Linked DNA regions of Homo sapiens: region 2 is linked to region 1. The links come from fine-mapping of genetic effects on gene expression. A gene starts in region 1. The other region holds a variant in brackets. All regions are shown on one strand. Distances are between the middles of the regions.

Region 1 (5,000 bases):
TACCTTTGGGCAATCTTGCTTTGCCTAGGATGGCAGAATAGAATGACAGAAGGGCAACAGCCCAGTGACACAGTGGAGATCGCACCAGCCCTAGACTGCCTACCTTCCAATTTAAGTGAGAAAAAATAAAGCCCTATTTCATTTAATCCACCGCTATTCCAAGTCTCTGTTAGTAGCTTAACACAAATCCAACTCTTGTGGTCCTATTAGCATATCTTGAATCTGGGAAGCTCTTGAAAAAATTATTGAATTGAATATGTAAAGATTTTTTTCATAGAAAATTTTGTCATCCTGTTGTACACTGGAAAACGCACCTTATTTCTCTCCTAATTTCTGATCCCATCATTCAATAGCCATTCTCCTTAGAAACTGTTTCGGGTTCTCACTAGCACCTTACTGGTGTTCTGCAAGATGGAAACAACAGCTGGTTATTCAGAAACAAATGCAAGTGTTATTGATGGAGCCATTTTATTTAAGGGGAAGGAAAAGTACTCATTGTGGTGATGGAGAATGAGCAGGAGTTGTCTATTATTTCCTTTCTCAAATATTATGCTAAGTGTTAGGACAATAATTAGAATGAAGAAAAATCAGTTAAGGTTTTCTCCTAAACTCTCCGGGAGCCCAAAGAATTTCAGTGCCATGTTGACTACATAATGCTTGTATCATGTATTTGTTCTCTTTTAGACATTGCTTTTGAAGCCACTTTTAGCCTCTGTAACAGGTTAGACTCACAGTCATCGTTTTCACCTTGGAATTCAGAAAGCATAAAAGAAAACTGCGTAATCAGTTGCAGCTCAGCTGTCCCCGTTTTTTCCCTTCATGCTTTTGTTCCAATCATCTGCATTTTGAGGGGATACTTTGAACACACACACAACCTCCCATTCTACTGGCTGTTTTGTAACAGATTTAAATATTTGCCCCAAAGCCAGCCTTTGACCAATGGGGCTTCTGATTAAGTTTTCATGTAACTGGTAGAAAGGAGAACATTACAGAGTCAGGAAAAACTTTTCAGGTGATTTAGTCCTTTCTCAATGCTTCAATTAACTGATGATAACGCTCAGTCAACATTTATCGGGCACCTATGATGTTCATTACGGCACTTCATTCTGTTAAAGAATAATAATCTCTTTATCCTTTTAACTCCCGATAATAGCTTTTTACACATAAATTTACAGTTCTTGGAATCAATGTATCTTAACATATCTTAATCATCTTTCTTTTGTAAGGAAGACTTTCTCATTTTAAAGGCTTTGGGTTTTTTTTCTTACAGCAAAATCATTTGGCTTGCGTTGTTAACACGTTAGTTTGAATTTTTTTTTATAAAAGCCAAATATATATAAGCAATGCTTTTCTCTCTGAAAATTTCTCCTGAATCTTAGCTTTTCAACAATTTGCTATTTTGTAGACCATATTCATGATTTGTTTACTCATACACACTTACTAAGGAGATGTTTACTCAGCTCCAAAATTCGTGTTAAGACTAGGACAGGCTCAAATCTATGACAAACAGAATCCCCAAAGAATAACTTTAAAGGTTATGTAAATTTCTGGAGGTATCTTATTATCTTTCTATTAAAATGTCAACATATTCTATACTTTTTCTCCATCCATTCTGGCAAGACACCATGCTATCTTGAGATTAAGCTAAGTCTCCTGGTTCAGATTCAAATCCCTGCTCAATAATCTCTTTATGGCACTCTGGGCAGTGTCTTCATCTGTGAAATCGGGATAATGATTTTATCTACAGTATTGGGTTGCTGTAAGGATTAAATATAAAGCATACAGCATGTGCCGGACATAGAGCTAGCACTCCATCCATGTTAGCGCAGGATTTCTGATTCGTCAGCATCATTACTCAATAACTATCATTCGGCCCTTTTAAATTGTTTCAGCGACGACTGAATGAACTTATTTATAAATGTATAACATAACTAGGGATGAAGTCATACTACATTGAGGTTTCATTTCCACATAGATAATATTAGGAAGCAGCTATGCCAACACTTTTTCTTCCTGTGATCTGTATACTGCAGGGTCTCTAGAAACAATGGTTTGGTTCTTTCCTGGTGACAAAGGATAAGAGAAGATGAAACTGCTACAAATGGCAATAACTTAAAAATAAAAGATACAGAAATATATGGAAATGAAAAACATATACCTATACATACACAGCTGTTTTTAAAACATGACCTTTATTCTCGAAGCTCAAACTTGATTTCCAGGTACAGCAGGCCTCTGTAACTTTTCTTGGCAGTGAAGTCATGAAGTCTCCTGTCCTCTAAAGCTACAGAAATTTAACCTGGAAGCAAGCAGTAGGCACTACGCACAGCACAGAGGGAACCCTGGGGTGTACGCTGTGGCTCCCACCTGTCCGCCAGGTCATTGTGACGCAAACGCTATGGCCACGTGGAACACCTGCCGGAGAGCAGGGGCGGGGTCACTCTGGGCGGCGGATCCGAGCGGGGGATACCCCAGGAGATGGGGGTCGAGGAGAGACCCCGGGGAGTAGAGAGAGAGAAACTCACTCCCCGAGTCCCCGACCCTCCCCAAGCAAGGTGAGGTCAACGCCACCCACCTTCCCCCGGTCACCCTGGGAGGGGTCGCTCCGGCGGGCGTCTGCTGGAGGGTAGAAGCGGGGAAGGGAGGCAGCGGCGGCGCCCAGGCGGCGGTAGGTAGCCGGGCGGCGAGGGCGCCCGCACCCCCCGGCCGCTGCGCTGCGCTGCGGTGCGCACGGGCTCCGCCGGTTGCTATTCCGGCTGGTGGCGGCCGCCGCAGGAAGGGCCGGTTCCTGCGCTCCCCCCGCCCCTTTCCCTCGCCTTCGGCTGACGCTGACGTCGGATGAGTGATCCGGAGGGACGCTCCGACCGCGGCCGGGAGGCTCCTGGGGGCCGGGGCTCCGAGGTACCTGCCCTCCGGGGTCGGGGCGGGGGCGCGCCGGGCGGGCTGCAGGAAGCAGCAGGAGACGCCCGGCAGCCGGGACGGTCGGGGACGCCTGGTAGGAGCTGCCTTCTCTGCCCTCCGCGGGCGGCGCGTGATAGGCGAGTCGCCTCCTCGGGTCCCGGATCCCGGTGCGGGAACCGCATCAGCCCCTTCCCCTCCCCTCCTCCCTCCGGCCTGGGAAGGTCTGGAGGATGCGCGCGCCGTGAGAGCGTGCGTCAGCCCCGGGGGAGCGGTAGGGAAGCGTTCCGCGCTCCGGCCCCAGCGCTGGGAGCACCGGCACCCATGCCAGCCCACCCCACCCACCCACCGCGCGCCTCGCCTTCCCGGCGGCTCCGGCCCCAGGACCCCGAGCTCCCTGGTGGGCAGGGACTTGCGTCCAGGGTTGACTTGTTGACAAGTTCACCTGCCGCGGCGCCTGGTGTGTGCTTTTTCTCTTCCCCTCCGTGGCCCTTTTTTTGGCAGGGGCGGCAGAGAGCATATGGGTACCTCTTTATAACCACTAGTGCCAGGAGGCCTGAGCTTGGTCCCCCGGGGGCGAGGTGCTCAGCAGTCTCGGACTAGACGGGGCGAGAACCCCTAAGCAACCCCGGTTCCAGCAAACCCTGGCGCGCCCGTTTCCTTTGGGCGCTGCTGACTCCGCCTTTCCTGCTCCGGGGCTATTGCAGCTCCTGCTTCCTCTAGAAACGAACATATCCTGTTGTTATGTCTGCCTTTCCCCCAAAGCGGCTCTCCAGGAACCTTTCCCACTGTCTTTTTACTTGTAGTACCCCCAAAGCACCTGAGCTTCTCTTTGGGGTCTTAAAAGTATCGCGCCCTTATTCTGGCGAAGGGCATTAACTGCCTGGTTGGGGAGAGTTAGTTTGGAAAGAATCGCGTTCTCTTCATTTAGATGGCATTAAAAAATTAGCGCAAGAAAGGGTTTTGTTCATGAATCTTAGTAACCGAGATCTGGTAACGGTATAAAAATTATCAAGGCCTGGAAAATATGTCACCAGCTTGCTTGGGAGTGATACTGAATGTAGGAAGAAAGACACATAAGGCATTTATTGGCCATTAAGGTCCTATAAAATATGACTCATCGCAAACATGTTTTTGTCCATACGTTTCAGTGAAGTCTCTTCGGAAAATCTCAAATTGGTTTCTGTGGCCCTCTGGTTTGAATCTGAGATCTGAACTGTTCTGTGGTTAGGGAGTGAAATAAGAAATGCTTAGTTTGAAATCTAGGCTCCCGATGCAATTTCATACCCCCTGTTTAAAACACACACTCTCTAAAAATGCTTTTAAGTAAGTTTTCAAACCAAAGATATATTTTTAGATTTCAGTCTTTATTTTTGAAACACCCTTTGTAGAGAATACCACAGGGACAAAATCAATTTATAATCCTGAATAGCTCAAATATCACTCTTTGGTTTTATACTAATACTGTACATACATCTTAATTGCAGGAGATGTTGCTTTCTAATTGTTTCTGTTTGTATTACAAAGGGAAATAATTGTACTGTTTATAAAGATGAATCTTTAGAAAACGTAACAGTTAAGCTACAGCGGGCTATTTGTGGAGAGACCTGATGTTAAAAAACGTTAACCCTGTATCCTCCACCCGTGGATCATTGAGTGCTAAAGATACTGGATGGTAATTGCCTGGGTGGTTTATTTTGTAACTATTTTCCCCCATTTGGAACACCTGAGTAACTATCTGACTGCTTTCTCTACGCATCTTTACCGCAGTGCATAAAGATCAATCTCACGAAAAGTATAGAAAATTTTGTTACTCAGAGCCTTCAAAATCAGTACGTTTTCAAGGTATTTGACTAAATAGTACATTTTTTTCAGGTGCAAGCAGCATTAGCGGTATGGAGGTCTGGTAGTTATGCCATAACGTAGAAGGATAAACCTATGTTTGGTATGAACTTTTAAGATTATAGAAACCTCATGCGAGAGAGGGAGGAAGTTAACAGGCCCCAAGTGTCAGGATGAATTTTTCCTCTTCGTTGGTTGAGCCTGAGGGTAGGTGGCAGTGTTTATAATCAGCACGCTGGTCACTAGTGTCCTTTTTTTCC
Region 2 (5,000 bases), 120 kb after region 1:
AGTTCTTACAATAAAGAAATACGCTGGTCCTTCTCAAGAAATAAGATTCTTGAAAAGAAGGATAACATGATGACGTGGGTGTTTTAGGAAAATTACTCTGTGCAGAGAGAGAAACAGAGCTGGCAGTTTGGAAGTGTGACACCAGTATCCATCTGGTGTCCATGGCAGACACCAAAATCAATCACAGGTCTGCTCTGCCGAGACACAGCCTGAGAACCATCTTCACTGGCCCTCCAGTCAGCCAGTACTAATCAATCAGAATTGGCCATGAAACCTGATTGCCTCCTATGTGTGTCAGACAAGTGAACGATAGGCAGGAGAAGGACAGGAGAAACAAGGTGAAGGCCCCAGGCTCATGACTTGGATTTTAGTAGTTCTGAGAATATAAGAAGGATAAGTATCCTGAGATGTTTATTTTGTATTTATAGGTTTGTATTTTAATTAGGGCCAGAAATAGAGATCTTTTTGTATAAATCATTATTCAGTTCTAGAAATGTTTTGCTTTTTCTTTCAGGATCATTGTCACTGGTATACAGTTTCTAGGCACTTGCTGTTTAAAAAAAAAAACTTAAATATTTAGTTAACCTTGAAAATAGTAACTCCAACAAATGATGTGCCAAAAGAAGACTCTCACCCATTTTAATCTACAAAGATTTGGATGCACCTGCTCTGTCCACTCGTGGGAGTTAGGTTGTCAGAATATGTTAAGCCACTATTTTTGGTTTTTTAAGAAAAGGTTTTGTTTTCTGTTATTTTTTAAAACTGGGTTTTAGATTGCAAAATAGCAAACAAAATTTAAAACAAAATGAAATCGTCTCATCTCTGGTGGAGGTGGGAGGAACTTCTACTTTGTCAGTGTGTGGGCTGCGAACAGAACAGAATGTTTATCTTAACTACATGTTGAAGTTGAAAAATAAAGTTAGCAATAGCCAAAAGGCCACGTTTGAATAACTTATCACAAAATGGAAAACATAAATCTTGTGGCAAATCAGCTCTGCTATATATGCTAGTATTTCTCGGATGTGTCTGAGAACATTGTTGCTTCACCATATAAAATTTTATTTCTTCCAGCTGATTGGTTCAAGGTCACCTCCCAATACCTGTAATTCAAAGTTTGGTTGCTGGGACAAATGGCAGTTGAATTTTTTAATTGATAACCTTTCTTTTCTTTTTTTTGTCTCTATTTCTTCTTCTTTTTTTTTCTTTTTCATTTTTCTATGGCTCGTGATCAAGAGCTTACAAGACCCTATGAAAAAATTAGTTGAGAAAGAAGAGAAGAAGAAAATCAACCAGCAGGAAAGTACAGATGCAGCCGTGCAGGAGCCGAGCCAGTAAGTCACAGGTTCCTTCCCTCTGCATCTTTCTTCCCACAGGTGAGAGTTATGTGGTTCTCGCTGACCGAACCTGGCTGGGCCTCAGACGCAGACTTGTCTTACTTCCTCACTTCTCAGAGTAGATGTATTAGCATCCCAGCCAAACCCCTTTAACGCATGCTCCTGCTAGGTCATGACTCACGTATCCCAGTAAGAGATCGGTTTCCAGGGGACTTAGAAGGGCACACTTGTGAGGAGCTGACTGGAACAAGACAGGGCAAATGTCCCCAGCATTCCCTGGCTCTCTGCCTGTGACCTGAGCCCCAGCTTTGCACTTTCTCTGGTTTCTGGACCCTATCTGGTCCTTTGTCAACACTAGATGCTCTTCTAGATAGGAAATCCCCTGGCTTTTCTCTCACTGAGGGAGCTTACCTATGAAATTGCCCTGGGATACATGCATACTAAGGCATCATCATATGAAAGTGTTGGATTTTGGCACTGTGTTTTCTACCATGCAGAATGTCTGTTTTCTTCTCTGTGAAACAGAGAACAGCTTCAAGTACAGGAAATGACTGCTCCATCTCCATTTCATGCCCCTTTACAAAGAAGGTGCCTCTTGTCATTTTAAATACTGAGATGAACTTTTCAACATATGTGGTGCATGGTTCCCTTTCTCATACATTGAGAAGGAGGTTGAAATGTGGATCTGTATCATTTTCTATGGAGATATAATAGCTTGCAGGAATGCAGTTAATCTTTGAACTGGCCGACCTAGGAAAACAAAATGGATGGCCTCGTTTCTATTCTCTACTCCTTTTCCACACACAAAAAAAATTTAGATGACAGTCTTATCGTAAAACAGGCTTATACTTTTATTGTATTTCTAAATCGACTTTCAGATATATTTTTTGTCCCACAGGAAAAGTTGCTGCCAATATTAGCCTTTTTAAATTTTAAAGAGTATATGTACTAGATAAATTTTTTGATGCAGAATGAAGACAAGTTCTCACTGAAGGACAGACTGTAGAATGTGATCTGAATCTAGTAAAACTGGCTATTTTATGGTGAACCAGTTTAACCCATTCCTGGTGATGGTAATAGTGCTAGCTATCATTTTAGTGAGCACCTACTATGAACCAGATACAATGCTAGGTGTTTTATTTATGTTAATTCCATCTCATGACAACCTTCAGTGACGTCAAGGCTGGGATTTTCCTTGTCATGTAAAAGATGGAAGGAAGGTTCCGGAAGGTTAAGGGGCTGCCCACTTACTCTTGTGTAGTAAGAGGTGAGACCTGAAGTGGGTCCCTGCACCTTCTTTTCACCATATAAGTTCATACAATCAAAATAAAGCATTCACCTTTACTTGGAAGTGGATTACCTGGGATTTTTCTTGATTTGTTTTAATTAATTCAGATTTCTCAAATACTTCAGTGCTTCATTTTTGAAAGCTCACAAAGTATAACCCAGTAACTATTTAAAATGACAGTGAACACTGAACGTGAATTTTGTTTAGAAATAGCAGAC[A/G]AAGGTGCATCACGGTGCTAGGAGGAAGGCTCGGAGGCACCAAGTGAATCTCAAGGGCAGTGATGTGTCTCTGTGTTTAAAGAAGTGGTGAGAGTTGAGTAGGAGATGGTCAGCCTGGATTTATGAGTGGTCCTGCCTGCAGCCTCTGTAGCCGAGCTAACCTCTGGAGGTGTCCTCTCCTATAACACTAGGAATCAGAAGAAATGGATTCTGATTGATATTTTTACAGTTTTTTTAACTATCAATTTTTACTATTTTTAAGGTGATAACTGTATGCGTCTATCTTATTTATATCTAACTGCCCATCTAGATATTTACAGAATATTTGCCTCGAGATGAAAGCAAATTCAGATATTAAGATGCTACAGAAAGGGAAAGAAGGCCAGCAAATTGGCATGTAAATGACTATATGTTGACCCTTCTTCGTGTGCGTGTGTGTGGTGTATGTGTTTGTGTTAAAAGTGAAGTAATATTGTACTGAAAGTCTGGCTGTATCATAAATATAACATTGGTAGAAGTTGATGACTAAACCTCTTTTTTATTTTAAGATTAATTTCATTAGAGGAAGAAAACCAGCGCAAGGAATCCTCTAGTTTTAAGAGTAAGTTTTGATTTTTATTTAGAATTGCTTCTGAAATATTACTTAATGCTTAACAGCCAAGTCATTTTACTTTTTGACAAACTCCTCCTAGGCCTTTCTTCTTTTTCAACTGAGAAAAGGCTAATTTGCTTCCTGTAGACTCAGTTCTAAATGTTCAGATATCCACCATGTCAACCCTACAGCATTACTGAGAGAGGCTGTGTATTGTGAACCAGAAAATCACATCACAGTCACATCAGCAGCAGCTCTTCAGAGGGGCAGCCACGATGGGAACTGGCAAATCGCTGTTTCTTTTCACAGCGGATTATAAGATTTCTGCTGTGACCCTGACTGGTTCTAGTTTTCATAAGATGAGGCTATGACCTCAGGAGAGGTGGATTTGCGGTATGTGTGGGGCGGGTGGATGTTTGTCAATGTTGGAAACAGATAGGAGCTGCTCACCCTGCCCTGCCAGCTGATGCCTCAGCCTGCCAGTGCCAAGCAACCCCTGATCCCTCAGGTGAACTGAACCTGATGTGTTAGGAGAAGGGGTCAGAGCGTTGGGAGATGGCACAGTGTGCTGTGCAGGCTCATCAGCTATTTCTGTCTCCTGCTGTTACTGCCAGTGTTTTCATTGGTCCTTCACCTCACAGAGGGACACAGGGTTTGATAGATTGTGGTAGAATTAATGTGACACAGTACCAAGCACTTCACTGGCACTCAAGCTCCTCGGAGATGCGGGGGAATGTTTTACAGGTGTTATGAAGAGAACTAAAATTACCCCAACACTGTGTTTACCTGGTCCCCCTGGGGACATATGCATCTCTTCCTGCTTCACCCTCTGGTGTGGTACCTTCCTGGAAGATAGGAGGAGGCAAAGGAGATTCTAGAACTTCTCCTCTGCTCCATTCTTCTCCTTCACCCTCTATCTTCCTTTTTACCTTTCCACCCACTTGCTTCTCCTCCTATTTGCTTTTCTCCTATCTGCCTTTCAACAACAACAACAAAAGACTCACTTTTTTGCCTCTAATGCTTGCTTCATGTCATCCATTCACACATGTACACCTTCACGTACAAGTACTCATGCACTTGTTCATTTGTTCAACAGATGTTTATTGAGCCGCCTCTGTGCCAGGCATGGCGCTGGGCTCTGGGCATACAGTGGTGCACCAGACATAGTCCCTTCCAGGATGAGGCTGACAGTCAAAAGGGCAAGCAGATGGTAATCTAATCATTACCAAAGTAATCCAGCAGCTCCAGCTTTGGTGGGAGCTCCAAGGGAGAGGTGTAGGGCTTTGGGCACATGTGATGGAGAGGACACAACTTTTTTAGGAGATCAGGGAACTGGCTAAGCCAAGTGCTATGGCAAGACTTGTCAAAGCAGAAGAAACAGCCTGGGCAAAGGTTATGGGCACAGGAGGACCTGGAGAAAGTCAGAGAAACCATGCTCCAGAGCATGAGGGGGAGCGAGTGGCAGGAGGAGAAAGGGAGCAGCTGGGCCTGCTCTTGTTGGCCACAGAAGAGCTCTCTGTCTATATGGATGCAAGCTCTCCAGCCTCAGTGTACCCACGGCACGAATC

Evidence for each region. PIP is the estimated chance that this variant, and not a neighbour inherited with it, causes the effect.
Region 2: its variant is fine-mapped to the expression of ICA1 in whole blood (INTERVAL, PIP above 0.99).

What each region holds. Positions count from the first base shown.
Region 1 is chr7:8,259,995-8,264,994 of GRCh38, reverse strand. ICA1 (islet cell autoantigen 1) reads left to right here and starts at 2,828. Exons shown (of 14, transcript NM_001136020.3): 1 at 2,828-2,901. It overlaps ICA1-AS1 (ICA1 antisense RNA 1), which reads right to left and starts at 2,770. Exons shown (of 6, transcript NR_125740.1): 1 at 2,576-2,770; 2 at 2,169-2,415; 3 at 315-404.
Region 2 is chr7:8,140,206-8,145,205 of GRCh38, reverse strand. ICA1 (islet cell autoantigen 1) reads left to right here. Exons shown (of 14, transcript NM_001136020.3): 9 at 1,234-1,331; 10 at 3,389-3,441. Among named protein-coding and RNA genes, the nearest start is that of ICA1, 120 kb to the left of the region's middle. RefSeq lists an enhancer at 1,324-1,553. The variant A/G (reference allele first, on the strand shown) is at 2,841.